Homo sapiens: one gene and its partners. The protein of the gene in region 4 purifies or fractionates together with the protein of the main gene of each other region. This does not show direct contact. Each region holds a gene or a part of one and is shown on either strand. Other genes may lie near its edges. The genes, in order: HMGCS1, HIBCH, ACP6, ECI1, ABAT, CHID1 and NFU1.

Region 1 (3,500 bases), on a different chromosome or scaffold from region 4:
ACACGGGCAATCCAGGAGGAGAGCCCTGATCGGGAACCAACCACGCTGGCACCCTGACTTCCAGACTGCAAACCTATGAGATCATAAATGTCTGCTGTTTAAACCACCTACTCTATGGTATTTTGCTGTGGCACCTAAGCAGATTAAATAGTCTGGTCACCTCAACTAAGTCCAAGCTCCTTAAGGTCTCCTCATGTCTTAGACTACTGTATGGCCCATTTTACCAGACATAGCATATATACCGCTGCTACTCAATTCCACAATGGAAAGAAAAACTCCTAAACACAACAGTCTACTTCCGAATTATATCCTCTTGATTCCTAAATTACTGGCCATATTTTTGTATTCAATACAGGAAAAACAATGTCATCACCAACATTCAGGGACAGGGGCATAAAGAAAGACTAAGGGAGGCTCATTCTTGTTAAGACCTAAAGCTGAGGAGGGTAAAGATAAGGCTTTTACATTCCTACTCCATTCATCTTCAACTCCTTTCCTGTGTCTACAACTCAGATGGAGGACTACTGATTTTCTGGATATGAAGCACTTGAAATGTTCTACATCCATCCTCACTCTGAGCTTCAACAAACTCTCCCCATCAATTTTTTGATAAAGTTGGTGCCCACTTTGCTGAATTTGAAATGAAAATATAAAAGGGCTGCCTAATATGCCACTAGGCATGGATTCTAAGTTTATAGTAAAATAAGATACTGGATAGTCCACAAGAAAGAGCCCTACAACTACTGTTATCAGAAAAAGACTAGTCCATAGGCTTATAAGCTCCTACATATGATCTCTTAAGTCACCAAAGTAGGAGTAACCACCTTTCCAGCCTTTCCCACAAGGCTACCCTTTAGATTCTTTTCAACTCTTCAAACTGCTTTAAATATGCTGAAGACAGTATGGTCTTCCTTGCCTGGCTCAGTGGTTTTTAACACTATTGGAAATAAAGTGAACAGGGAATATATCTTTTTGAAGGTATAAACCAGTTTGCAATATACTTGTACTCACTAATAAATTCACTTTAGTCTTTTAAGAGCATCATGTAGCAACACTGGCAATATATTTAATTATCCTTATAATGCTTGTACAATTCTCTATAAAAAGTTATAATGCAAGGCTTCCATTTCAGAATTAATCTGTATTTGTCACAGTCTGACCAGCTCTGATCAATTCTTTGTATTATAGTACTCCTAAAATAAGATACAACTCTATGACTCCTAAATGTCCTACATTAAATACATGACATGTTTCATTTGAAAACAAACAAAAAACGTAGGTTAACTAAAATAACCCACATACATCAAATGGAAAGTGAAACACAATTCTGACTTTGATGGAAAAAAACATTTTTACATTGTCCAAGTCAGTCAATATTACTCATTCTCTGAGGGTTTCTGACAGCCAATGTGTTTTCCATTATGTTCTTGGTAAAAAGCCATCTAATCTGAAATATTTAGCCTTTGGTTCAAATTCAGAAAGAGAGTGATTAAGTTGACAGGAAAATTAATACAGAGAAATAATTGCTTTCATGACATTTAGAAGAACAGAAAGTTAATAGTTTCTGGTCTCAAATGTTACTTTTTTTTTTGAGACGGAGTTTCGCTCTTGTTGCCCAGGCTGGAGTGCAATGGTGTGATCTCGGCTCACTGCAACCTCCGCCTCCCAGGTTCAAGCGATTCTACTGCCTCAGCCTCTCAAGTAGCTGGGATTACAGGCGGGTGCCACCACACCCAGCTGATTTTGTATTTTTAATAGAGATGGGGTTTGACCATGTTGGTCAGGCTGGTCTCAAACTCCTGACCTCAAGTGATCCACCCGCCTCGGCCTCCCGAAGTGCTGGGATTACAGGCGTGAGCCACCGTGCCCAGCAAATGTTACTTTTAACTATCCTATTGAGCATGTGCTCTTACATTGTCCTTTCAAATGCTCTCTGAAATAGGCTAGATATAGTTAGATATAAATTAGGGAAAAAAAGACTAGCTACAGGTCTGAGGTGCTCACATTATGGTATTCACTCTTTACCCTACCAGAGAATAGAATATTCTGGTTAATTCACTATTTAAGAATAAAGAGGCCGGGTGTGATGGCTCACACCTGTAATCCCAGCACTTTGGGAGGCCGAGGTGGGCGGATCACTTAAGGTCAGGAGTTCAAGACCAGCCTGGCCAAAATGGTGAAACCCCCTCTCTACTAAAAATACAAAAATTAGCTGGTTTTGGTGGCGGGCAACAGTAATCCCAGCTACTTGGAAGGCTGAGGCAGGAGAATCACTTGAACCTGGGAGACGGAGGTTGCAGTGAGCCAAGATCTGAGCCAAGATCGTGCCACTGCACTCCAGCCTGGGTCACAGAGTGAGACTCCGTCTCAAAAAAAAAAAAAAAAAAATTTAAAAAATTTAAAAAAAGAGATAAATCACAAAAACTTTCAAGTAGAACATAATTTTAAAAATCTGATGGTTAAAAAAATTACGTTTTTAATTTTTTACAGATAATGCATTTTATTATTTTCAGAGTACTATATTCACCATAAAATAAGTCTAAAGAGAATAATGAGGACTCTGTATTTATAATAAAATACACACATTTTCTTTTTAAATTCTATCCTTAAAAAAGGCGAGAAAAGGCAACTTTCAGAGAACTTTGTAAACCTTTCAAGTCTTCCAACAAAGTAGTACCAACAGAGGACTAAAGTCTTAAATAAGTCTCATTAAAGTGAAGGCTCACTCCCTCTGGTGGACAAAAGAAACTCCATATGCTATTTCCAGAATCAGTAAAGCAAGATAAGGAAGCCTTGTTAATGTTTTCTGAATGCTTCCTGCCTAGAATACATAAAAGACCTATATAGTTATTCTGAGAATAAATCTGGAAATGAAAGAGAACTGGAAAGGGGAAAAAAGGGGGAGGGAAACTAGCTGATGATACTGGTGCAAGGGAAGTCCTAACCTAGCTCCTCAATGGCTGTGTTGGGGAAGGACTTCAGCATCAGTCTCTCCTAAGTGAGCTCTGCCTCTGCTCTCTTCTCTGTCATAGGCCAACAGTTTTTTCCAAACTGCATGTCTAACCATTGTCAAGATGCTGCAGGTTGAGCATTCCTAATACAAAAATGCTAAAATCTGAAATGCTCCAAAATCTGAAACTCTCTGAGCACCAACATGATGCTCAAAGGAAATGCTCATTGGAACATTTTGGATTTTGGATTTCCAGATTAGGGCTGCTCAAATGGTATGTTTTCTCAAATATTCCAAGACCCAGAAAAATCCAAAATCTTTAACATTGCTGGTCCCAAGCATTGTTCAGATAAGGAAAATTCAATTTATATTTCAAACTGCCAAGTTTCTCCTCTATTATTTAGGCTTAGCCTCTCTGCATTAAACAAGGAGCTTTTGGAGAGCAGGAACCGTGCTTTGTTCATTTTTGTGTCCCCGGTACCCAACCCACTGTTTGGCATATGGTAGATGCTAATGTTGAATAAATGAAATGGTACTAGACTTCTAATCT
Region 2 (3,500 bases), on a different chromosome or scaffold from region 4:
TGCTAGATTTTTTAATGCATTATTGTGATGGTTAATATTGACTGTCAACGTGATTGGATTGAAGGATGAAAAGTATTTTTCCTGGGTATGTCTGTGCAGGTATTGCCAAAGGAGATTAACATTCAAGTCGGTGGACTGGGAGAGGCAGACCCACCCTCAGTCTGAGTGGGCACCATCTAATCAGCTTCCAGAGTGGCTAGAATAAAAGCAGGCAGAAGTTGGAAGGACTTGACTTGCTGAGTCTTCCAGCCTTCATCTTTCTCCGGCACTGGATGCTTCCTGCCTTCAAACATCAGCTTCCAAGTTCTTCAGCTTTTGAACTCTTGGACTTATACCAGTGGTTTGCCAGAGGCTCTTGGGCCTTTGGCCACAGACTGGAGGCTGCACTGTCAGCTTCCTAACTTGTGAGGTTTTGGGACTCAGACTGATCCATCACTGGCTTCCTTGCTCCTCAATTTGCGGACGGCCTATCATGGGACTTTATCTTGTGATCATGTGAGTCAATTCTCCTTAATAAACTCCCTTTCATATATACATATGTCCTATAAGTTCTGTCCTTCTAGAGAACACTGATTAATACAATTATCTTATTTATCATTTATAAGCACTCTAAGGTAGATATTATTATTATTCTCACTTTATACATATCAAAAGGGAAGCTGTAAGAGACCAAGTAATCCACCCAAGATTAAGTAGTGAACCCATTATTTAAACTCAGGCATTCTGACTTGTAAGAACCATGGTTTTAACCATAATCTTATGCCACCTCCTACAAGGTGCGTGTGCCATGTCTTGACACTCAGTTGAGAACCATGATGTACCTAAGGTCAAGGAAATCTGCCATACCAGTATTTCTCTACTTCTCTAACAATGACATTTTAAGTTACACATACAAATAATGCCAGCAAAACAAACACAATAACTTACCAAATGGTGCAGTATGGTATTAGTCCTTTTGAATGCATTAAACCTGAAACAAATGTGGAAAACAATGAGAACAGTAATGTGGGTAGTCATGTCTCAGTTGACAAATAGTATATCACCTTTTGTTTCAGCCTCTTCTAAAAGGTATTACCAGAACAAAAAGTTTTAAAAGGTTTAGCTCTCATTCACTGCTGGTAGGAACATTAAATGGTACAGCCACTTTGCACATGAATTTTATGGTAACTTTATTCATAACTGCCAAAATGTGGACGTAACCAAGATGTTCTTCAATGGTTGGAAGACAAACCAATTTCAATACAACCATATAAAATATTATTCAGCCATGAAAAAAAGAAAAGAGCTATTATGCCACAAAAAAAATTGGACGAAACTTAAATGCATACATACTACTAAGCAAAAGAAGCCAGTCTGAAAAGGCTACATACTCTCATTTCAACTGTATGATATTCTGAAAAGGGCAAAATTATGAAATCAGTAGAAAGATCAATGGTTGCCAGGGGTTTGGGGGACGGAAGGAGGGATGAACAGTTGAAACACAGGAGATGTTTAGGGCAGTGAAACTAATCTGTATGATACTGTAATGGTTGATACATGTCCTTATTATTTGTCAAACTTTTCTGCTCAAATTTGCAGGTCATTTTTTCCATCAACTTATAACTACTCTAAAAAATAAAGTCATTAATCTTAAGAAAAAAGGTTTGTTAAAGATGCAATACAAACAGCATTCTCAGACACTAGAGAGAGGTATAAATTGGTACTGCCTTTCCGGTAAACAGTCTGGAAATACAAATCCACAGCCTTTAAAATGATCACACCCTTCAATCCACTAATTCCGCAAGCATTTGCACTAGGGAAATCTCAGAAATATGACCAAAGTCTGATTGATAAATATGTTCACATTATTTACAGGATGGAAAAACTGAAAACAAAGTAAATGTCTAAGAGTAGAGCATTATTTTAAAGACTGTGTCTATTAATACAGCCATTACACAACCACTAAAAATACTAACATGGAAAAGTAGTGACAAATCACAAAAGGAGAGCAGGCTACAAAACAATAAACACAACACACTTCTATTTTTTGCTGTCTTAAAAGTGCTTGTTGGGCTAGGAATACAAAGCCTGAGACACAGCTTGACCAAAGTGACCACTAATAATGGACATGAGAATGGTGAGGGTGGGGGCACCTGGGAAGGGGCATGAACAAACACGGAATGTTGGAAATTGTCTCTATCCCAATGCTGATTACAGGACTGCAGGTATAAGTTCACTAAGCTATAAACTTCAGAACGGTGTACTCAAGTGCCTTATGTAAATTATAATAAGAAAGTAAAAGACAACACCGGGAACGGCAGTGATTGAGAGAGGCATGAGGAGGGCCTCTGGAATGCTTGTTTCTCGATCCAGGTGCTGGTGATTTAGGTATGTTTCATTTGTGAAAATTCATCAAGTTGTATCATTATGCTTTGGGCTTTTTAAAAAATGTCCTAAAAGACATAGCTCTTGCACTCGAGAAACCCACAACGTAATGACAGATGTGCAAATAAAAACACTATAGTTAGAATATACTAAGATGCATGCTTTTTGTTTAAGAAGCTAAATTTAAGATCTATGGAAAGAGGTCAAAGCTAGAATCAGTAGCTGCAGCAGCCTGATAAGGGCTGTGCACATGTGCAGATACATATACCAACTAATGGAACTGATAAACTGACAATCTGTTAATTTTTCAAGAATACTCTGAGATTATATGAAGACCAACAGCCTGAGGTTTCACAAAAGGCAATATCACCAGTTACCACTTGTAACAACTTGGATGACTGAATTTATAAAAATATTTGTAATCCAACTTGCCTTTCAGAATTTATATGACTTTTTTATATTACATTCAAATTGAATAATACTATACAAAAGAGAGAAACAACCTATTTGTTTAAGTCAGTTATAATTCACATTCCTGAACTAGCATTTTCTGAATTTGTCTCACAAGTAAAATGTAGCCCAGTAATTCCAAGACTGGTCTGTACATTAGAATCACCTGGAGACTCGGCTGGGCATGGTGACTCATGCCTGTAATCCCAGCACTTTGGGAGGCCAAGGCAGGCGGATCACCTGAGGTCAGGAGTTTCAGACCAGCCTGGCCAACAAGGCGAAACCCCGTTTCCACTAAAAGTACAAAAATTAGCCAGGCATGGTGGTGGGCGCCTGTAATCCCAGCTACTCAGGAGGCTGAGGCAGGAGAATAGCTTAAACCTGGGAGGCAGAGTGTAGAAAGTAAAAAGTTTCCTCTTCAAAGTTTTTCTTCCTGTTAAAGAATAAATCATAACTGTTAGAAATAATAATTTCTTTTAAAGACTAACTTTCTTCATGCCTCCTTGCTTTGTGCTAGTAACTCTTTGTTAAGCCCTATCCTACGTAACTATTGGACATGCTCACGGGCATGTTCGAGCTCACAGCCTATTCCCCTTATTTAAAAATGTTATTGCTTCCTTAAACCTTTCATAAGCAACTTCTTTGTTCTTCCCTACACTTACCTATTTAGGCTATTAGCATATTGG
Region 3 (3,500 bases), on a different chromosome or scaffold from region 4:
ATCCCAGGAGAATGGTACTGGGAGCCTCAGATTCTCTTGGCATCTAGGGAGCCCTCCATTCTTCCCAAAGGCATGTGTCAGTCCCACTGGCACCTGGTCTCCAACACCTGAACCTCCTTCTGACACATCAGAGGACCAGGTGTTCACAGAGAGGCCTTCTTCCTTCTTTCACAGTTAATCACTGCTCCCTCTTTCTGACCCTCTAACCCCTCTGGATAAAAAAAACCCTTCGAGGGTTCATGGCTCATGTGGCCCCACCTCCTCTCTAGCAGCCCCCTTACCACTTCTTCCCTATTCTACATACTTACTCACTAGCCACGCAACTTCCTTTCCTTTCTCATATTTCATGGCCTTTCAGTATCATGTTTCTTATGCCTGGAATTTTCTCTCCTCATTCATTTAGAAAGACTTTTGTTCATTCCTTAAGACTTAGCTTAAGTGTTCCCAGAAACCTTGGTCATGGCCTTATGCTTTCACAGTAGCTTCAGTGGCTCTCTTTAGTAGCCTTTACCAAAGTGTATTAAACGAGCTCCTTTACTGGTCTGTCCTGGCTTCCTGAGAACAGAGACTCGGTCATCTATTGACTTCTGTTTCCCAGCAAAGGGCCTCACACACAGTAGGTACAATTAATAGCTCCAACAATTTGCCAGCTCCTGTGGAAGATACCCATCTTGAGAAAACTTGACCCTGCCTTTCCTGGGTGTTCAAGTTAGTAAAGAAAAAAGGCCAGCTGTGAATGTAAATGACAGCAATACCATAATAGAAGCTGACATGTGCTGCAAGAAACCATATGAAGGCCATAGCAGTTCAAAGGCAAGACAGACCTTCTCTTCTGGCTGGGGATTCAGGAGAAGTTTCATTGAGGGAATAGCATTTTAAATGAATAGTATTTAGACAAGCAAATACCTGTACTTATAAAGGGTGACATTCAGAATTCCAAAAATAACTAGAAAGCTTGCGCAAAGCAGAGATGGTAAAGAATGTGTATGGCAAAGAAGTGGTTTGGTTTGCCTCAACCTGGGAATGGTTTTCCAATTTTTAAATCAGAAAATACCACATAAAGTTTAACTTTAGATTTGTATGTATAAAGGCAAAAACTCGAATTTCTCTAGTTGAAGTAGGAGGGAATCCCACAGCCCCAGCCGCTCAACATCCTCTTAGCCCACAGGCTCCACAGAATAAATCTGAAACCTGGCAGCATACATCACAATTGGAATGGGAAGACTAGATGCAGAAAAGCCCATTTTGAGATGTTAGCAATAGTCCACATGAGAGCCTAAGGCCTCATCTAAGCCAGTTAACAATAGAGGAGGTAGATGTAAGACATTTGAGTTAGACTTGGCAAGTGAGTAAATAAAAGCTTTATGTGGGGACTGTGTTGGTAGGTAAACACAGAAGAACAAAAAAGAGACTACTTTGATTTTTGAGCCTTGTAATGGAGATATTCCTTGACTAAAACTAAGACCAAGACAGAAAAACAGGTGGAAAGCTGATTTCAGTTTTGGACATTTGGAGACACCTCCTTTGTGTTCCCAGTGCTCCCAGCATATTGCCTTAATTGATATCTGTTGTCTCTGCTTTATCACATTGAAACTCCTTTAAAGGCAAGACTGAATTATCCATCCTTGTAGTTCCAGTGTCCACCACAGGGCCTGACACAAAGCTCCACAGGGCCATTCAGCCTCACTAAGAAATCTGTTAGGCACATTCACCAAGAGAGGACCCTTGGCGTCTCCTAGGAGTCTGGAGTCCAGGTCACGTCAAGTCTAAAGTACAGTTTTCAGATTTTCAAGAATGGATGATACATCAGTTTCATATAATAGTGTCCACCCCACATACACACTCTCATTCTCATTCCTGCTCTTAAGCTTCCCAGTTAGTGGCAAAGACTAACTTGATAATTTTACTTATTTTGTGTATACCCCTCTTCAAGGGGTAATAAAGTAGATATAGCAAAAATTAAAATATAGTAAGACAACCAATTCAAAGTAGGCAAGAAAGACAAAAGCAAACAAATGTAGGGACAAAGAAATGGATGCAGTAACACGGTTACTAAAATATGTACACCATGAAGATCTGTTTACTTACTATAGGTGGGCCACAGACTTGGCACCCAGCTTCCTGACTTTTACATAAAGAAACAAACTTGATCAGCTAGACTAGTTTAAAGAAAAAAGCAAGCCAATTGTTCAGGAGAAGCACACCATTCCTAATGCTAACAGACAAATTCCTCCCAAGGGTCCTCATAAAGAGGATAGAGTAATATAATGAACATCTTTTCAGCAGTCACAGCAATGAGTTCTGTGGGATTGTTTCTCCTAGTTCTCTCAACACAGAAAGATAACCTCTTACCAAAGCACATTTCAGCGAAGGCAATTCTGTACTGGGATTGATATACTACATTCCAGGTAAAAGAACAAATCTACATAAAAGTAAACAAAAACCTCCCAGGTGTAGATTTTAAAATAAAGCAATCATATTAAACCTTGTCTGTATACTGGTATTACCAGGACATTTTTTAAAAGTTACTGATGCCTGAGTCCCAACCTGGGATAACCGCATTTGGATTATCCCCCAAAAAAGTGGGGCCTCCACTTTTTTAATGCTCTTCAGTCCAGATAATTCTCAAGCTTCACCAGAGAGTCTTTTACATTATCTGGATACCCCGGACCAATTAAATTAGAATCCTTCGGAGGGAGACCCTGGCATGTGTATTTTTTAAAGCTTTCCAGTTGACTCCAATGTTCACCACGGTTAAGAACCATCGATCCTGAAGAATGGGTGGACCTCATGTAATGCTTCTTGAATACCGCTTCTTTTAGCTGAGTTTTGGAAAGGTACTAAGCAATAAAAGATTCTTACATTATGCTTCCCAGCTCATCTATATTGTCAAATAAATAGGGACCCAAATGTCTTAATCAACAGTGAAGCTGGGGTAGGTTGGACTTTATTTTATAAAAACTGAGGAATCTCCCTGGGTGGAGGCCATCTTGACACCCAGGGGAGTTGAGGGAAGCCTGGAAGCAGTGCCAAATCTTTTCTTTTGATAGTGCATTTGGATCTGCTCTAATGATCAGGAAAAAAAATGGCCAATCAAGTTCTATATTTTTATTTCCAAAGCACAATCTTTTAGCAAAACAGGTTAAACCAACAGCCATTCAAGCCATAAGAAAACAACCCAATAAAACACTAGTTTTTTGTTTTTGTTTTTGAGATGGAGTCTTGCTCTATCACCCAGGGTAGAGTGCAGTGACCCAATCTTGGCTCACTGCAACCTCCGCCTCCCGGGTTCAAGCAATTCTCCTGCCTCAGCCTCCCGAGTAGCTGGGATTACAGGCGCCCACCACCACACCGGGCTAATTTTTGTATTTTTAGTAGAGATGGGGTTTCACCATTTTGGCCGGGCTGATCTCGAACTCCTGACCTCTTGATCCACCTGCCTCAGCCTCCCAAAGTGCTGGGATTACAGGCATGAGCCACCACACCCAGCCAAAACATCT
Region 4 (3,963 bases):
GGCGCAATATTGGCTCACTACAACCTCTGCCTCCTGGGTTCAAGTGATTTTCCTGCCTCAGCCTCCTGAGTAGCTGGAATTACAGGCACCTGCCACCATGCCCAGCTAATTTTTTGTATTTCTAGTAGAGACGGCGTTTCATCATATTGGCCCGGCTGGTCTCAAACTCCTGACCTCATGATTTGCCCACCTTGGCCCCCAAAGTGCTGGGATTACAGGCATGAGCCACCGCGCCCAGCAGCAGGAGCTAATTTTTAAGAATTTTTTGTAGCAACAAGTTGTTGCTATGTTACCCAGCTGGTCCTGAGTCACTGGGGTTACAGGTGTGTGTCACCATGCCAGGCTTGCTTCCTCCTCCGTTAAGTGGCCATTTTTCCACCTCAAAAATTGGTTTGGGACACAAGGAAGAATTGGAAATGCTTAAGATGAGAACAAAAGTTGAGACCACCCAACACAGCTGGGACCTTACTGCCCAGTGCTCCCAGTGGTCTGACCAAAACCCCACACCAGACAGTACAAAGGCCCACTCCCGAGCTGCCGCTTACGGCCCAGCGGGAACAGACTGTATTCTTATCTTTCGGCATTTCTCTGCAAATAAAAAGGTGCCACTGCGGTCCGGCCTTTGTGCACTTGCCCTTGTGCTGAGCAAGGCGGGTGGCCTGTTCTTACCGCTGGGTTCTGCTGCCCCCACCCCCATTTCGGTGACTAAACCTGCAGCTCTGATCCTGTTCCCAAAGGGGCAGGAGGCCGGGCTCACCCCAGGCAGCCCCTGGCCTCCCTGACGGCCCCCTCGGGAGGGGTTCCGTGCTTTGATCGCCTTTCCAGCGCCGATACTGCAGTAGCTGGGCCCGGCCGAGAGCTCGCGGTCACGAACACCGGCAGCCTCTTGCCTACAGTGTCCCGCGCTGTAGAAGAGCCTGCCCTGGCGCTGAGCTGGTCGTGGCTGCTTCAGCAGTGGGCCTGCGCCTCCTTGTAGGCCAGCCCTGGCCCAGATCCAGGTGCCTGCCCCGGAAGCGCGCGGCTGCCCGGGGTGAAGCCGGAGGGCGGCGAGCGGCTGTTTCGGCCGGTAGGTGGAGGCGTTGACCAGCCTCTGGGAACGGGGCGGGACCTAGTTGGGGGGGCTCCGCCCCCTCCCCAGGAGGCGAGCTCAGCCCGCGACCTTTATCCCGCGCGTTGCGGTCAAGATGGCGCTGGTGGCTTCTGTGCGAGTCCCGGCGCGCGTTCTGCTCCGCGCGGGTGCGAAACCCGGGGTGGGCAGGGATCGGGCCGGGGCCGGGGCCAGGACCGGGAACTAACGGGCTCCCCCACGCTGCCTTCGCAGGGGCCCGGCTCCCGGGCGCGGCCCTCGGGCGGACGGAGCGGGCGGCCGGCGGCGGAGACGGCGCGCGGCGCTTCGGGAGCCAGCGGGTGCTGGTGGAGCCGGACGCGGGCGCAGGTGAGCGGGCGGCGCCGAGGGAGGGCGGGCGTGGGGTCAGGACCCGCGGGGGTCCGCGCTCGCGGGGTGCTGTCGGAGAACCACGTCTGTCGACGCTCGGTTTGTGTTTAGAACCCAAGTTTCGAAACAGAACCTTGCCGCTCTACCTGGGTTCGTTCGTCATGAGATAAAAGTTTCTGTTTTTAAAGTTGGCGGAGGCCGGGCGCGGTGGCTCACGCCTGTAATCCTAGCACTTTAAGAGGCAGAGGCGGGCGGATCACCTGAGGTCAGGAGTTCGAGATCAGCCTGGCCAACATGATGAAACCCTATCTGTACTGAAAAATACAAAAGAAAAAAATTAGCTGGGCGTGGTGGTGCGTGCCTATGCCTGGGAGGCTGAGGCAGAAGAATCGCTGGAATCTGGGAGGTGGAGGCTGCAGTGAGCCGAGATTGTGCCACTGCACTCCAGCTTGGGCCACAGAGCAAGATTCCGTCTCAAAATAAATAAATAAATAAAAATAAAGTTGGCGGGGATATGAGCTGTTATCTAAGTTATTCAATTGGAAGTGGAAAAGAATTGGAATCTTTTGGAATAAAATTACGTTTGTTAACACTCCCATGTGGCACAGAACCTCGTACCTACCCGCCCGTCAGAACCCTTGGTAAAACCCACTGGAAAGGATAGAAAAAGTACTTTTGGAAGAGAAGCCTGTGCGCTCCCTCCAGACAGGAGGCCGAGCTGAGGGCACCGAGAGGGCACGCCTAGGCGCCAGCAGTTCTGCTTCCAGGACATGCTGACCTGGACCTCCCGGTGCAGCAGTCCCTGCTGTGGCTCCTGAGAGGAGGCCCTCCCCCTCCGCAAGTAAGTCACAGCCCCTGCCCTCCCCAACCCCCCAGACTCAGGGCTGTGCCCAACTTTGCACAGCTTCAGGACTCCAGGCTCCTGGTGCCTCTGAACTTGGTTCCGTCCTCTCTGTCTGGGCTGAGGGAGCTGCCTGGGCTCTCTCTACAAACTTGAGAGGGACAAACTAAGACCAACTTCAAACTGACTTTTTTTTTTTTTTTTTTTTTTTTTGGAGATGTAGTCTTGCTCTCCAGTCGCCAGACTGGAGTGCAGTGGCGCAATCTCCGATCACTGCAACCTGTGCCTCCTGGGTTCAAGCGATTCTCCCTCCTCAGCCTCCCAAATAGCTGGGATTACAGGGACCCACCACTATGCCCACTAATTTTTGTAAAAACTGAGTTTCTGAAGGGATCATTTCTGTAGCATATTTGAATATATCTCAACAAAATGCAAAAAAAAAAATTATTATTTTTTTTTTTTTGAGACAGAGGCTCCCTCTGTCACCCAGGCTGGCGTGCAATGGCGCGGTTCCGGCTCACTGCAATCTCAGTCAGGCCTGACTTTCTGACTCCAAACTCTACTTTGTCTTTTTTTTTTTTTTTTTTTTTTTTTTTTTGAGACGGAGTCTTGCTCTGTCGCCAGGCTGGAGTGCAGTGGCACGATCTCCGCTCACTGCAAGCTCCGCCTCCCGGGTTCACACCATTCTTCTACCTCAGCCGCCCAAGTAGCTGGGACTACAGGCGCCCGCCACCACGCCCGGCTAATTTTTTTTTTTTGGTATTTTTAGTGGAGACGGGGTTTCACCATGTTAGCCAGGATGGTCTTGATCTCCTGACCTCGTGATCCACCCGCCTCGGCCTCCCAAAGTGCTGGGATTACAGGCGTGAGCCACCGCGCCCGGCTTACGTTGTCTTTTTATATGGTAAAGTGGGGAGGCACTCGAGTAAAAAAATTGTCATTGTACGAACACTTTTCCTTTTTTACCGGAGGTAATGTGTGTGTGTGTGTACATAAAAATCTTTAAAATATGCCTCACATTTACCATTCTAGCCATTTTGCAATGTACAACCCCGTGGCCGTAAGTATATTCACAATGTGTAGTCCACACTACCCATTCCAATACCTTAAGATAACATGTTTTTGAGTCCGGGCCCGGTGGCTCCCACCTGTAATCCCAGCACTTTGGGAGGCCAGGGTGCGCGGATCACGAGGTCAGGAGATTGAGACCATTCTGGCTAACACGGTGAAACCCCATCTCTACTAAAAAATACAAAAAAAAATTAGCCGGGCGTGGTGGCGGGCACCTGTAGTCCCAGCTACTTGGGAGGCTGAGGCAGGAGAATGGTGTGAACCCCGGAGGTGGAGCTTGCAGTAAGCCGAGATCGCGCCACTGCACTCCAGCCTGGGCAACAGAGCAAGAATCTGTCTCAAAAATAAATTAATTAATTAAATAAAATAAATAAATAAATAAATAGGAATGACAACCACATGGATGAACCTTGAACACATGATACTAAGTGGACAAAGCCGACAACAAAGCCCGGCGGTATCCCAGTGATATGGAATATGGCTGGAGCAGGAAAACCGCAGACACAGAACGCAGACTGGCGGCTTCCAGGGGCTAGGGGTGGGATGAGGAGCAACTGCTCATGGGGACAGGGATTCCTTTTGGGACAATGAAAAGGTTCTGGAACTAGGCAGCGGC
Region 5 (3,500 bases), 6.5 Mb from region 4:
CTCAGTCATCTCAGGAAAATCTCTCATTTCAGGAGGATCAAGTACAAGGAAACCACGTTGAACCAACAGGCCACTTTTCCATGCATGGAGCTCTGGCACCTTTAATTCATGGTGCTTCCCTCCAGAAGAAATCCAGTCCAGCAATGATTCCCTCTGCTCTGGTGGAACAGCCAAGCTGTTCCTGGGGGTCAGCTCACAAGTGGTGTGAAGGTGGATGAGCAAAAGAGAGGAAGAGCCTCTTAGGGCGAGGGAGCCAAAAGTCAGACCTCAAGTTGCCCTGGGAAACATGATGCGATGGCTCTGCTGCCCCAGACCCTGGGCTTTTCCTCCTGGGGTGACGGGCCTGTGCTTCTAGCCCTGTGGCTCACGTGTGTCCCTGTGGACACTCAGGCTACAGTTTCCTCCCACCCAGGTCCAGGTCTAGGTTGACATTTAACAGGGAGGAGGGAGTTTGGGGAATGGAGGATGCCGAGTAAGAATCACGGGTAAGGCCACCTGGGGATCCTCCAAGGGCAAAGCCCTGTCCAGGGCAGAATTCACAGTTTAGGGGGATCCCCAGGTGCACTGAGAGGGGTGATTCTCATCTTCAGGGGGCCAGAGGACCTCTTCCCTTACTCCTGAGCTGAATCCTCCTGTCCCCATTTTACGGCCTTCCTCAGATCTGTCCAGTCCCTCCTGCACCATGCGTGGGGCGTGCTCAGAGCTCCGGGAGGCTGGGAGAGGAGGTGAGAGTGTGTTTGCTTGCATAGGGCGAGGGGGAGCCAACATCCGTGATCACAGAATATGGCACTTGAGATGGACTGGCACCCAGGAGGCCCAGCTGCCAGTCCCAGGAACAAATGTAATGCCCTTGACTGGCTTTTGGAAAAATTGCTGGGGTTGGTCAAGGTTGGGCAGAACTCTAGCCAGGACCTCCCATGGCCCTTCCCAAGATGAGTCCAGGGCTCAAGCAGGATCTCTGGGCTTAAACCAATGTGCACCATTGGCTCTGCAGGGAGGAAAATCAACACCAGCCCTTCCCTCCCCTCCCCTCCCCCAAGACCACCAAAAATGCTCCCTCCCCACAAATCACCCTTCACTGTGCATTCACCTCTGATACTTTTAAGTGAAAACATGAATTAGGCAAACTAATCAATTTGACAACTGTTGGGATCCGGGCTTTCTCACTGTAGTGGAAATGGCTTCTTTACTTGAAGTCTGCTAAGATGTCACTGAAAATATTGAGGAACAGGTGAGCGTGGTGATCCCTGAAGACCAGCGTGGGACGGAAACGAATGGATTTGTCACCACAGCCACCCAACACCACACCTGAAAGAGGCAGGAGGTAGGTGAGGAGCGTGGTTTCTCAAAGTCACATGCTGGGAGAGCTGGGGGGAAAGTGATGCCTGTTGGCAACGCTCATCCATCCATCCATCCATCCATCCATCATCCTCCATCATGGAAGCCCGGGCTTCCTTCCTACCACCCACCCATCCAGTCTTCATTTCCTTTCTCTCTCCCCTCATTCATCTCCTCCATCATTCTCTTCTTCCTTTCCTTCCCTCCACACTTCCTTTTTCCCTTCCTCCCTCCCTCTCTCCTTTGAGTGCCTGCTTTGCTGCCCCAAGCTAGGTCTGGTGATAGAGAAATCCTGAGATAAAGTCCTTGCCTTCCACAAAGTCATGGAGGAGTGGGAAAAGAAAATAGGTAAGCAAATAAGTTGCAAAAGCACAGGCTGAGTCGGAAGCATGTGTGAGGTGCTGAGCTATTACGGAGGAGGGACAGGCTCTGCTTATTTTAAAGGGTGACTTCACAGTTACAGCTGGTGTCCTTTCCTTGTCGAGGTTGTTTATGCCTTTTTTTTTTTTTTTTTTAGAGATGGAGTCTCGCGCTGTCACCCAGGCTGGGGTGCAGTGGCAACCCAGTCTCACTCACTGCAACCTCCACCTCCCAGGTTCAAGCCATTCTCCTGCCTCAGTCTCCCAAGTAGCTGGGATCACAGGTGCCGCCACCACGGCCAGCTAATTTTTGTATTTTCAGTAGAGATGAGGTTTTGCCCCGTTGGCCAGGCTGGTCTCGAACTCCTGACTTCAGCTGATCTGCCCACGTCGGCCTCCCAAAGTGCTGGGATTACAGGCGTGAGCTACTGCACCCGGCCTGTTTATGCCTTTGAGACCACGTTTTCTCATTTTTAAAATGGAGGTTGATTATCCCTGCCCTTCTGAGGCTGCTGCAAGGATTCTGTAAGATGGCACAAGAAGAACTGACAATGTGCCTGACATAGAGTACGTGCTCTGATCTCACCACAGCGTCTGCCCTTACCCCTGCCACACATGTCCTCAGTGGCTTCCCACAGCTCCTAGGATGAAGTCTGGAGTGCTAAGCCTGATCTGCAGGCCCATGCGACCCGGGCCTGGCCTCTCCTCCCCCAGCTTCATCCCCTCCCAACCGTTCGCCTTCACGCCCCCTTCTTTCCCTTTTACCACCTCTGTAAGCTCCATCCCACCTCAGGCCATCGCATGCACCCTTCCCTCCGCCCAGAATGCTCTTCCTTACCTTCTTCACCCAGCCAATCCCTGTTTGTCAAGACTTAGGGTAAAATGCTACTTCCTCAAGGGAGCCTGCCCTGATTTCCTACCCTCACCAACTGCTGCAGCTATCTGCTCTCTTAGCTGCGTTTTCTCCTTCCCAGGACTTAAAATTGCAATGGATTGGTTGTGAAATGCCATGTGTAAAGCCATGCCTTCCTGCTACACTGCATGCTTCCTGAAGGAAGGGGCTCTGATGGTCTTCATCATCACTGTAACTGTCTCCAGTGTCCACTTACAACTCACCTCCTCAGCGAACGCTTGTTGAGTAAATAAATGGATAAAGAAATCCCATTTGTAATGTTCTCTTCTTTGGAGAAAGAGCATTCAGGCTCTTTTCAGACCTGTGTACCACCTGCCCCCCACACAAAATATTGCTGAGTACCTAGCAACATGTGGCAGCTACAGCAGGAGATACTGGATGCTCATGAAACTCAGCAGCCACTCCTGACCCCTTACCTTTGTTTCTGGCAATTAAAATGAGCTTATTCCGTATGGAATCATCGGGAGTATCGAAGGAGCAAAAGGTGCCTCGTCCTCTCACCCTGCTGATGAACTGGGGGTACCGGGCCTGTAGTGGGAGGAGACAAGGCTGGCGTCAAAGCCCATCACCTGTGTACCAGCTGGGCTTAATGGCTGTGCTTCGTCAAAGGCCTCCCATGGTCCAGCCTCGGCCTCTGCATGGACTGGCAGGACCTCCAGGGGGTTAAGAGCTCTGGGGACATTCAGGCCTGGGTTCAAAGCCCAGCTGTGCACATGTGTGTTGTGTGGAGGAAAAAAACCACCACCACCACCACCAGCAACAACAACCAAGCCCAGCTCTGTCCCTCTCACTGTATAACCTTGGGCCACTCAAGTGCCTCTGTTTACCCTGCTATAAACTGAAGGATTTAAATGCTGTTGACCCCACTGGGGCCGTGGTGAGACTTTAGC
Region 6 (4,247 bases), on a different chromosome or scaffold from region 4:
CTCCTGGTGCAGACTGAGGAGACTGTGGCTACCCCCAGGCAGGGAGTTTGCATGCTTTGGTACCCAATACACCCACAACACACCTGCATAGAAAGAACACGCTCCTGGAGCAAGATCAACCAGTGAAGCTCCCCCACCTAGGAGGCAGGGAGCCACAAGACAGCCTGACCTGCAGGCTTATGGGGAGTTAGGAAGGGAACTCACAGGGCAAGCACAGCAGCACCCAGTACATGGAGCCACAGGCAAAGGCAGTGAGTGCTTGAACAGCCACGGCAGTTCCGAGAGGCTGTGCAGGGGGAATAAGAAGGCCCAGGCACAGATCACCACCCTCTGCCCCGATCAACCTCTCCAGCCCCTCTCCTCAGTGATACATCCCAGAATCAGAACCAAGGGCAGCAGCCTGCTGCCACCTCCCCTTAGCCCCACTATCTTTCTGCTGCAGCTGAGGCTTGGTCTGAGTCAGCAACAGCCCCAGGGAAGGTGGGGAGGGTTCTGGCCATGGCACAGGGAAGACGGCCCAGAATCACTTGCCTGGCCAGGCTGAAACGGTGGCTGCCTCAGCTCCCAGGCACCCAGTCTTTGACCCCAGCCCATTCCATGACCACTGGCTCCTTCTCTGTCTTCTGGGTGGAAATCTGGGTCAGGGAGGAAGGAAAGGAATGAAAAACCAAACGGTGGTTCTCCAGGGGACTGGCCCAGGAGTAACTGGAGGGCACACTCAGGTACCCAGTGACCAACCACTATAGGGCTGGGTCTCTGCCCCTACCTGCCGTCCTGCAGATTTGAAACAGGGCCACTGTCCACCCACCTAGTGGCCCCTCTGCCTATGACCTCCCTGCCCCCCAACCTGTGATTTCACACTTCAGGGAAGGAAGAGGAAAGGGTGGAAGAGGAAGACAGTCCTGCCAGCATGTGTCCAGCAGAGGGGACACTAGGAGAACCTAACTGAACACAAGGCCAGGGTACTGCCTCTGTCCACTCGCGCTTAACTTGCCCGCTCTGTGATGGAGTGCTTGGATACAGGCTGCTCACAAATGCTGGGCTGCTTCTTTGACTTGCCATGGAACTTTCCAGACAACTGCCCCAGGGAGATGGTGTGTGTGATGTGTGAGGGGTGCTCACACTGCAACCAGGCCCTTGTCTGGGCTTTGGTACCTCTCCCGCTCCCCACTGCTCACCGGCCGCTCGGCTCTGAGGCCCGTGAGGACACTCTCCATCATGCTCTTCACATAACACAGACTCCCAGGTTCACACACACTGTGTTCCTGCATCAAACCGTTTCTTCCCCAAATGCCAATGACCTTCCCTTGGGCAGAACGGCCCCGCACACAAAGGGAATGTGTTGTGTTATGAAGAGGCACAGGCCCCGACCCTGGTCACCCAAAGGGGTCCCAGAAACCGCTCTGTAACAAGATAAGGTGGAGCGCTACTGCTCCCACTTTCCTGCGCTCCCAGTCCGTAGGTCCAGGACCTCCTCGGTGGTGTTGATGGAAATGATGGGAGTCACAGCAGGGGCTTTCCAATGCTTTTCATGGAGACCAGCAGTAAGAAATGCACTTTACGTCACAGCCCAGCACACGTGTATGTCATGTGTGCACATGTGTTGTGCATGTGTGTACATGTGTAGAGCGACAGCAGCCAATCAGAGCTAACTCTATTCTGCGATGGACGCACTGACAACTCCTGTTCTGTTGTGTTTTGAAGAACTAACTGGTGCATGGCGGCTCTGGCCTGTGATCCTAGCACTTTGGGAGGCCAGGAGTTTTTGACTGGTTTTGGCAACACAGCCAGACCTGGTCTCTACAAAAAATATTTTTCTGCCGGGCAGATCACCCCATCAGGAGTTCAAGACCAGCCTGGCCAACGTGATGAAACCCAGTCTCTAAAAAAGATACAAAAATTAGCTGGGTGCAGTGGTGTGCGCCTGTACTCCCAGCAACTCGGGAGACTGAGGCAGGAAAATCCCTTAAGCCCAGAAGCGGAGGTTGCAGTGAACCGAGATCGCGCCACTGCACTCCAGCCTGGGTGACAGCGTGAGACTCTGTCTCAAAAAAAAAAAAAAATTCTTAGCTGAGTGCGCTGGCGCACACCTGTAGTCCCAAGTAGCTAGGAGGCTAAGAGATTACTAGAGCCCAGGAAGTCGAGGCGGACGGGCGGGCGGGTCACCCTCCAGTTTGGACAGTCAGCAATGGAAGCTTCAAGGGTTGGGGCTGAACCAAGGGTGGGTGGGATCGCGTCTGATGCGCCCACCCTTCACGGGGACCGCGTGCCCCTCACTGGGAGGGCAGCCCGCCTGGAGCCCTACTGCCTCTGCTCCCTCTGGGGGTCCTGGGGACCCGATGGCCACCACTCTGCCACACGAGCCGCGCGCTCACACACTCCTCACCCGCCGGCCACATCCCTTGTCTGCGCACTCAGGCCCCTTCCACCCAGCGCGCCTAGCTCTCAGGCTTGCTCGCCCCAGCGCACGCGCTCCACCTCCCACTCGCGGTCCCCCCGACACGCGCCCCCGTCCACACTCGCCCTCCACCCCCGCTCTCGCTCACCCTCGCTCTCATAGCAACCCTCTCTCACCCTCGTCCTCACACCCTCTCACACGCCCCCTCACACACTTGCTCTCTCTCACGCACCCGCCCGGCGTCGCCCGCGACCCCACGCCCGTCCTCCCGGGGCCGAGCCTCGCTGCCCGGCGCGCCCACTTTGCGGGAGGGAAACTGAGGCCGTGCAAGGAGGAGGAGCAGGGGCCGGCCGCCGCGGGGCTCACCTGCATGTCAGGGAGGCCGGACGGCCACAAACGCACGGCCGGAAAACGCTCCAGCGCGCCGGAAGTCCCGCCCCAGGCGCCCGCGCGCCGCCGCCGCGCACGGCACGCTGGGATGGAGAGGGGCTGGGCCAGGACAGGGGACTGGGCAGGGCTGCCCGAAAGTCGGGGCCGGGGCCGGGGCCGGGGCCGGGGCGGGGCCGCGCCGGGGGCGGACCCCGGGCCCGGCGCGTTCACCTTGAGCGCCCCTGGTGCTCGCGCTGGAGCTGGTTATCAGGTTCCCGGCCCAGGGGTAGCCGGGTTCCCAGCGCCACGGCTCTTAGGCAGGCCTGGCGCCCTTGGCGTGGGGCCGCGCGGGGCCTTGGGCTCCAGGGCCTCTGCCCGGCTCGGCGGTGCCGGGAGAACCGCGCGGTGGGCTCCGCCCCGGCACGCTCCCCCGGGGACCCGGAGTCACCACTCCTGGCGTCCCCCCGACCCCCGCCTGAGTGGACCATCTCCATCCCCAGGCCGATGGCGCCCACTGCGCTGTCTCCAGCGGGGACTGCCCGAAACGCGCGCTCTCTCGGTCCGCACCCCCGCCTTGCACATTGCACGAGCCGGAGCCCCAGGAGGCAAACCAAGTTCCCAACTCAGCCCCTCGCGCTTGGATGAACGAGCGCGTGGCCAGCACTTTTGAGTCACCGCGCATTCTACGCGGCACAGGCTGTCCGACCCCCACCCCCAGCCCTAGCCGTTCCCAGCGCAGTTTCCTACAGAAAACCGCACGGCCGGGCCCCACCCTGCCCCGCTCAGCCGTTCCCGGGGCGCGCGTGGGCTCCAAGACACCCTGCACAGCTGCTTCTCCATTTCTGCTGCTTGGGAGCTTTCTCCTTAAACTAAGCTTTGTCTTTCTTTCTAGTCACGTTTCCTTCTTTCCCTTCCCGGTATTTTCTGCCAGCTGACGCCCACGCCTTTCCTAGAAGGGGCTGGGGGCTGCATGCGGTGCGAGGCACGTCCCCCACCAGCTGTGGGCTCTTACTCAGCTTAGCACTCGCTCTCAGCAAACGGCCTGGATGGTGGCCTGAAGCCTGACCTTTGGGGGTGAAGACCTCAAGTCGGCAGAGCTCTGGAGAGGGTCCCAGTAAGCTATGGCAGGTGTCCTCAGGGACATATGCGCAGTCCTCCCAATGCTAAGGAGGCCATGGCAACATCCAACTTCTCTTAGGAAAGGCACTTAGCCATTTTAGGATCTCATTGAGGTCAGAGGTCTTTGGCGCTAAAGAATTGCAGAATCGATCGGGCAGCCGCCGCCTTTAATCCTAGCACTTTGGGAGGCCAAGGCGGGTAGATCACTTGAGGTCAGGCGTTCGACACCAGCCTGGCCAACATGGTGGAACCCTGTCTCTACTAAAAATACAGAAATTAGGCGTGGTGGCGCATGCCTGTAATCCCAGCTCCTGGGGAGGCTGGGGCAGGAGAATTACTTGAACCTGGGAGGCTGAAGTTG
Region 7 (3,500 bases), on a different chromosome or scaffold from region 4:
AAAAGGTGAGATAAATGGGGACTGCTAAGGTTATAAAAGTAAAACTAGTGAAATATCTTAGTGATTGGGAATGGAAACTAGTTGTAGGTAATAAATTATTTGGAAAACAAATCAGAGTGTTACCTCAGATCTTCAGTAAATAGCAGGCTCTACTAAATAGGAAAATATTGGTAATAAAAAGAAAAAATATTCTAAAGTTGTCTGAATGAGAAAAAAAGGGCAGCATATAAGCTGCAAATATACATATATATTTAGAAAAAAATAACACAAATGATGCATAAAGAAGTCTAATTATCAACTGGAAATCAGAAATAGAAACAGGCGATTGCTGAAGACATTCAGTAAAATGTGATAGTCCATGATGAGAAACATTACTGGAAGAAAACAAAATAAATCCAGTATTCCGTCTATTAAATACCAACGTGGGCCAGGCGTGGTGGCTCACACCTGTAATCCCAACATTTTGGGAGGCCGAGACAGAAGGATTGCATGAGCCCAGGAGTTTGAGACCAGCCTGGGCAACATAGAAGGACACTGTCTCTACAATAAAAAAAAATAAAAAAAAAATTAGCTGGGCATAGTGGCATGCACCTGTAGTCCCAGCTACTCGGGAAGCTGAGACAGCAGGATCGCTTGAGCCTGGGAGTTAGTGGTTGCAGTGACCCATGATCGCACTACTGTATTCCAGCCTGGGGAAACAGAGCAAGATCCCATCTATATGTATGTGTAGATAGATAGATATACACACACACATACATATATGTGTATCAACATATACCCTAACTTGGGATATTATCTATTGGTTATGTCATTTCACTTAAGAAAAAATTGTAGAGCTAGGGCAATTTCAAATAGGGTAACTAAATAATGAAAGTAAGAGAGCTAAAAGATGACTTACTAAATCTAATCAAGAAAAATAGGAAAAAAAAAAAAACCAAAACCCTTTAAGATATAATCACATTTTTACCTATAAAAATTTTTATATAGCATAGGCTATACGTAAAAGAACTAAATAACTTTAAAAAATAAATATATAATTTCCCACTTATAAAATAACTAGTTGTAAGAATTAGATAACATATGTAAAGCACTAGGGCCATATCCGACATTGAATATATTAAATAAATGTTCATCCCTTCTTCTCCTTAAAAAATATGGAAGAAAGAAAACTGAAGAATGGGGGGCTGGACGTGGTGGTTCACACCGGTAATCCCAGCACTTTGGGAGGCCGAGGTGAGCAGATTGTTTGAGCTCAGAAATTTGAGACCAGCCTGGAAAACATGGCGAAACCCTATCTCTACAAAAAATACAAAAATTAGTTGGACATGGTGGTATGCACGTATAGTCCCAGCTACTAGGGAGGCTGAGGTGAGATGACTGCTTAAGCTCAAGAGGCTTAGGCTGCAGTGAGCTGAGATCATGCCACTGCACTCTGACCTGGGTGTGGAGTGAGACTTTGTCTCTAAATAAATAGCCGCAAGAGAATACTGGACTAGATGACTAGATTTAACATGTCACTAACCCAGTATGTCCCCTTTTTTTCTTTTTTGAGATGCAGTCTCGCTCTGTCGCCCAGGCTGGAGTGCAGTGGCCCGATCTCCGCTCACTGCAAGCTCCGCCTCCCGGGTTCACGCCATTCTCCTGCTTCAGCCTCCTGAGTAGCTGGGGCTACAGGCGCCCGCCACCATGCCCGGCTACTTTTTTTTTGTATTTTTAGTAGAGACGGGGTTTCACCATGTTAGCCAGAATGGTTTTGATCTCCTGACCTCATGATCTGCCCACCTCGGCCTCCCAAAGTGCTGGGATTACAGGCGTGAGCCACCACACCCGGCCCCCAGTATGTCCACTTTTAAGGACATAAAGAGCTCAGACTAATCCTTTCAATTTGCTTAAGGGGAGTTTAATAAATATTTTTGATTTTCACACACTATCAGGCAAGTGATTTAAGTTCCGTGGATATATGTCAATTAACAGATTTAAAAGGATACATAGTTCAAATTTAAATAGTTCATGTCCCATTAATCTAGTAGACATCAAAAATGGAACAGCCCTTTCTAGCAGATACTGCCTTGACTGTTGAAAAACATAGCATATTTTTTATAGGCGTGGTGGCTCACGCCTGTAATCCCAGCAATTTGGAGGCCGAGGCGGGTGGATCACCTGAGGTCGGGAGTTCTAGACCAGCCTGGCCAACATGGCGAAACCCTGTCTCTACTAAAAATATAAAAATTAGCTGGGCATGGTGGCAGGCGCCTGCAATCCCAGCTACTCAGGGTGGCGGGGGGGGGCGCCGAGGCAGGAGAATCACTTGGACCTGGGAGGCAGAGGTGGCAGTGAGCCAAGATCGCACCATCACACTCCAGCCTGGGGGACAAGAGCAAGACTTCATCTCAAAAAAAAGAAAAAGAAAAGAAAAAGAAAAACATAGCATATTTCGCTTGATTCTTGTGACATTTAGAGGACAAGAGAGTAAGACCCTGTCTCAAAAATAAAATATAAAAATTAAAGAACAGAAAGAATGGAAATGTTGGAGAGAGAGGCATTGGACTCAGAAAAAAATGAAGAGTATTTCAAGTCTTATTTTATATAATCCTATGTTTACCTTTGTGACAGTGATGAAATCTGGTCCAAAGAAGACACTTTTTACTCCTTCAATCCTAAATAACTGCCTGCAAAAAAAGAAAAAATAAGAGATATTAAAATGCTTGATTATGGAAAAGTTTAAACATACACAAAAGTAGAGAAAAGTAAAAAATTCTCCACATATCCTTTGCAGCTTTAACAATGATCAACTCATGGCCAATTTTGTTTTATATTCCTACTCTACGATTTAGCAATCCCACTCCTAGTTATTTACCCAAAAGAAATAAAAACTCGTGCTCCACAAAGACTTGTACATAAATCTTCATAGCAGCTTCATTTAAAATAGCCACACATACAGAAAAATATGGAAATGTCCATCACCTGGTGAATGAATAGACTGCTATATCTATACTATCAATCATTCATTCAACCAATATTTGACACCTACTAAGTGCCAGGCACTGTACTGAGCACTAAACAGACTATTTTTTTTTTTTTCTCTTTTGAGACGGAGTCACCCTCTGTCCCCCAGGCTGGAGTGCAGTGGTGAGATCTTGGCTCATTGCAACCTCCGCCTCCTGGGTTCAAGCAATTTTCCTGCCTCAGCCTCCCAAGTAGCTGGGATTACAGGCGCCCACCACCACGCCCAGCTAATTTTTGTATTTTAGTAGAGATGGGGTTTCACCATGTTGCCCAGGCTGGTCTCAACTCCTGACCTCAGGTGATCCACCCACCTCCCAAAGTGCTGGGATTACAGGCATGAGCCACCACACCCAGCCTAAACAGACTATTTTCAAAAGACTAACTTGAAAAGAGATTTTGCCAACTGAACATCTGACAGAAATAATCTCTAACTAATCTATAACTGAATTAATTGGGGCTTTTTTACTTTTACTTTTTTAATACAAAATATGAAC

Evidence for each region.
Region 1: the proteins of ECI1 (region 4) and HMGCS1 fractionate together in Homo sapiens (co-fractionation; one large-scale study listed by BioGRID). This does not show direct contact.
Region 2: the proteins of ECI1 (region 4) and HIBCH fractionate together in Homo sapiens (co-fractionation; one large-scale study listed by BioGRID). This does not show direct contact.
Region 3: the proteins of ECI1 (region 4) and ACP6 fractionate together in Homo sapiens (co-fractionation; one large-scale study listed by BioGRID). This does not show direct contact.
Region 5: the proteins of ECI1 (region 4) and ABAT fractionate together in Homo sapiens (co-fractionation; one large-scale study listed by BioGRID). This does not show direct contact.
Region 6: the proteins of ECI1 (region 4) and CHID1 fractionate together in Homo sapiens (co-fractionation; one large-scale study listed by BioGRID). This does not show direct contact.
Region 7: the proteins of ECI1 (region 4) and NFU1 fractionate together in Homo sapiens (co-fractionation; one large-scale study listed by BioGRID). This does not show direct contact.

What each region holds. Positions count from the first base shown.
Region 1 is NC_000005.10:43,303,413-43,306,912, forward strand, and holds part of HMGCS1 (hydroxymethylglutaryl-CoA synthase, cytoplasmic), read right to left. Parts: intron 1-3,500. UniProt on the Homo sapiens protein: Catalyzes the condensation of acetyl-CoA with acetoacetyl-CoA to form HMG-CoA, which is converted by HMG-CoA reductase (HMGCR) into mevalonate, a precursor for cholesterol synthesis.
Region 2 is NC_000002.12:190,309,827-190,313,326, forward strand, and holds part of HIBCH (3-hydroxyisobutyryl-CoA hydrolase, mitochondrial isoform 1 precursor), read right to left. Parts: intron 971-3,500; coding exon 928-970; intron 1-927. UniProt on the Homo sapiens protein: Hydrolyzes 3-hydroxyisobutyryl-CoA (HIBYL-CoA), a saline catabolite. Has high activity toward isobutyryl-CoA. Could be an isobutyryl-CoA dehydrogenase that functions in valine catabolism. Also hydrolyzes 3-hydroxypropanoyl-CoA.
Region 3 is NC_000001.11:147,664,025-147,667,524, forward strand, and holds part of ACP6 (lysophosphatidic acid phosphatase type 6), read right to left. Parts: intron 1-3,500. UniProt on the Homo sapiens protein: Hydrolyzes lysophosphatidic acid (LPA) containing a medium length fatty acid chain to the corresponding monoacylglycerol.
Region 4 is NC_000016.10:2,248,788-2,252,750, reverse strand, and holds the start of ECI1 (enoyl-CoA delta isomerase 1, mitochondrial isoform 1 precursor), read left to right. Parts: upstream 1-1,163; 5' UTR 1,164-1,184; coding exon 1,185-1,236; intron 1,237-1,321; coding exon 1,322-1,435; intron 1,436-3,963. UniProt on the Homo sapiens protein: Key enzyme of fatty acid beta-oxidation. Able to isomerize both 3-cis (3Z) and 3-trans (3E) double bonds into the 2-trans (2E) form in a range of enoyl-CoA species, with a preference for (3Z)-enoyl-CoAs over (3E)-enoyl-CoAs.
Region 5 is NC_000016.10:8,779,117-8,782,616, reverse strand, and holds part of ABAT (4-aminobutyrate aminotransferase, mitochondrial isoform 1 precursor), read right to left. Parts: intron 3,139-3,500; coding exon 3,027-3,138; intron 1,368-3,026; coding exon of another isoform or gene 1,309-1,367; coding exon 1,187-1,308; 3' UTR 1-1,186. UniProt on the Homo sapiens protein: Catalyzes the conversion of gamma-aminobutyrate and L-beta-aminoisobutyrate to succinate semialdehyde and methylmalonate semialdehyde, respectively. Can also convert delta-aminovalerate and beta-alanine.
Region 6 is NC_000011.10:908,011-912,257, forward strand, and holds the start of CHID1 (chitinase domain-containing protein 1 isoform a precursor), read right to left. Parts: upstream 2,801-4,247; 5' UTR 2,765-2,800; exon of another isoform or gene 2,631-2,764; intron 636-2,630; exon of another isoform or gene 532-635; intron 1-531.
Region 7 is NC_000002.12:69,416,936-69,420,435, forward strand, and holds part of NFU1 (NFU1 iron-sulfur cluster scaffold homolog, mitochondrial), read right to left. Parts: intron 2,670-3,500; coding exon 2,603-2,669; intron 1-2,602. UniProt on the Homo sapiens protein: Iron-sulfur cluster scaffold protein which can assemble [4Fe-4S] clusters and deliver them to target proteins.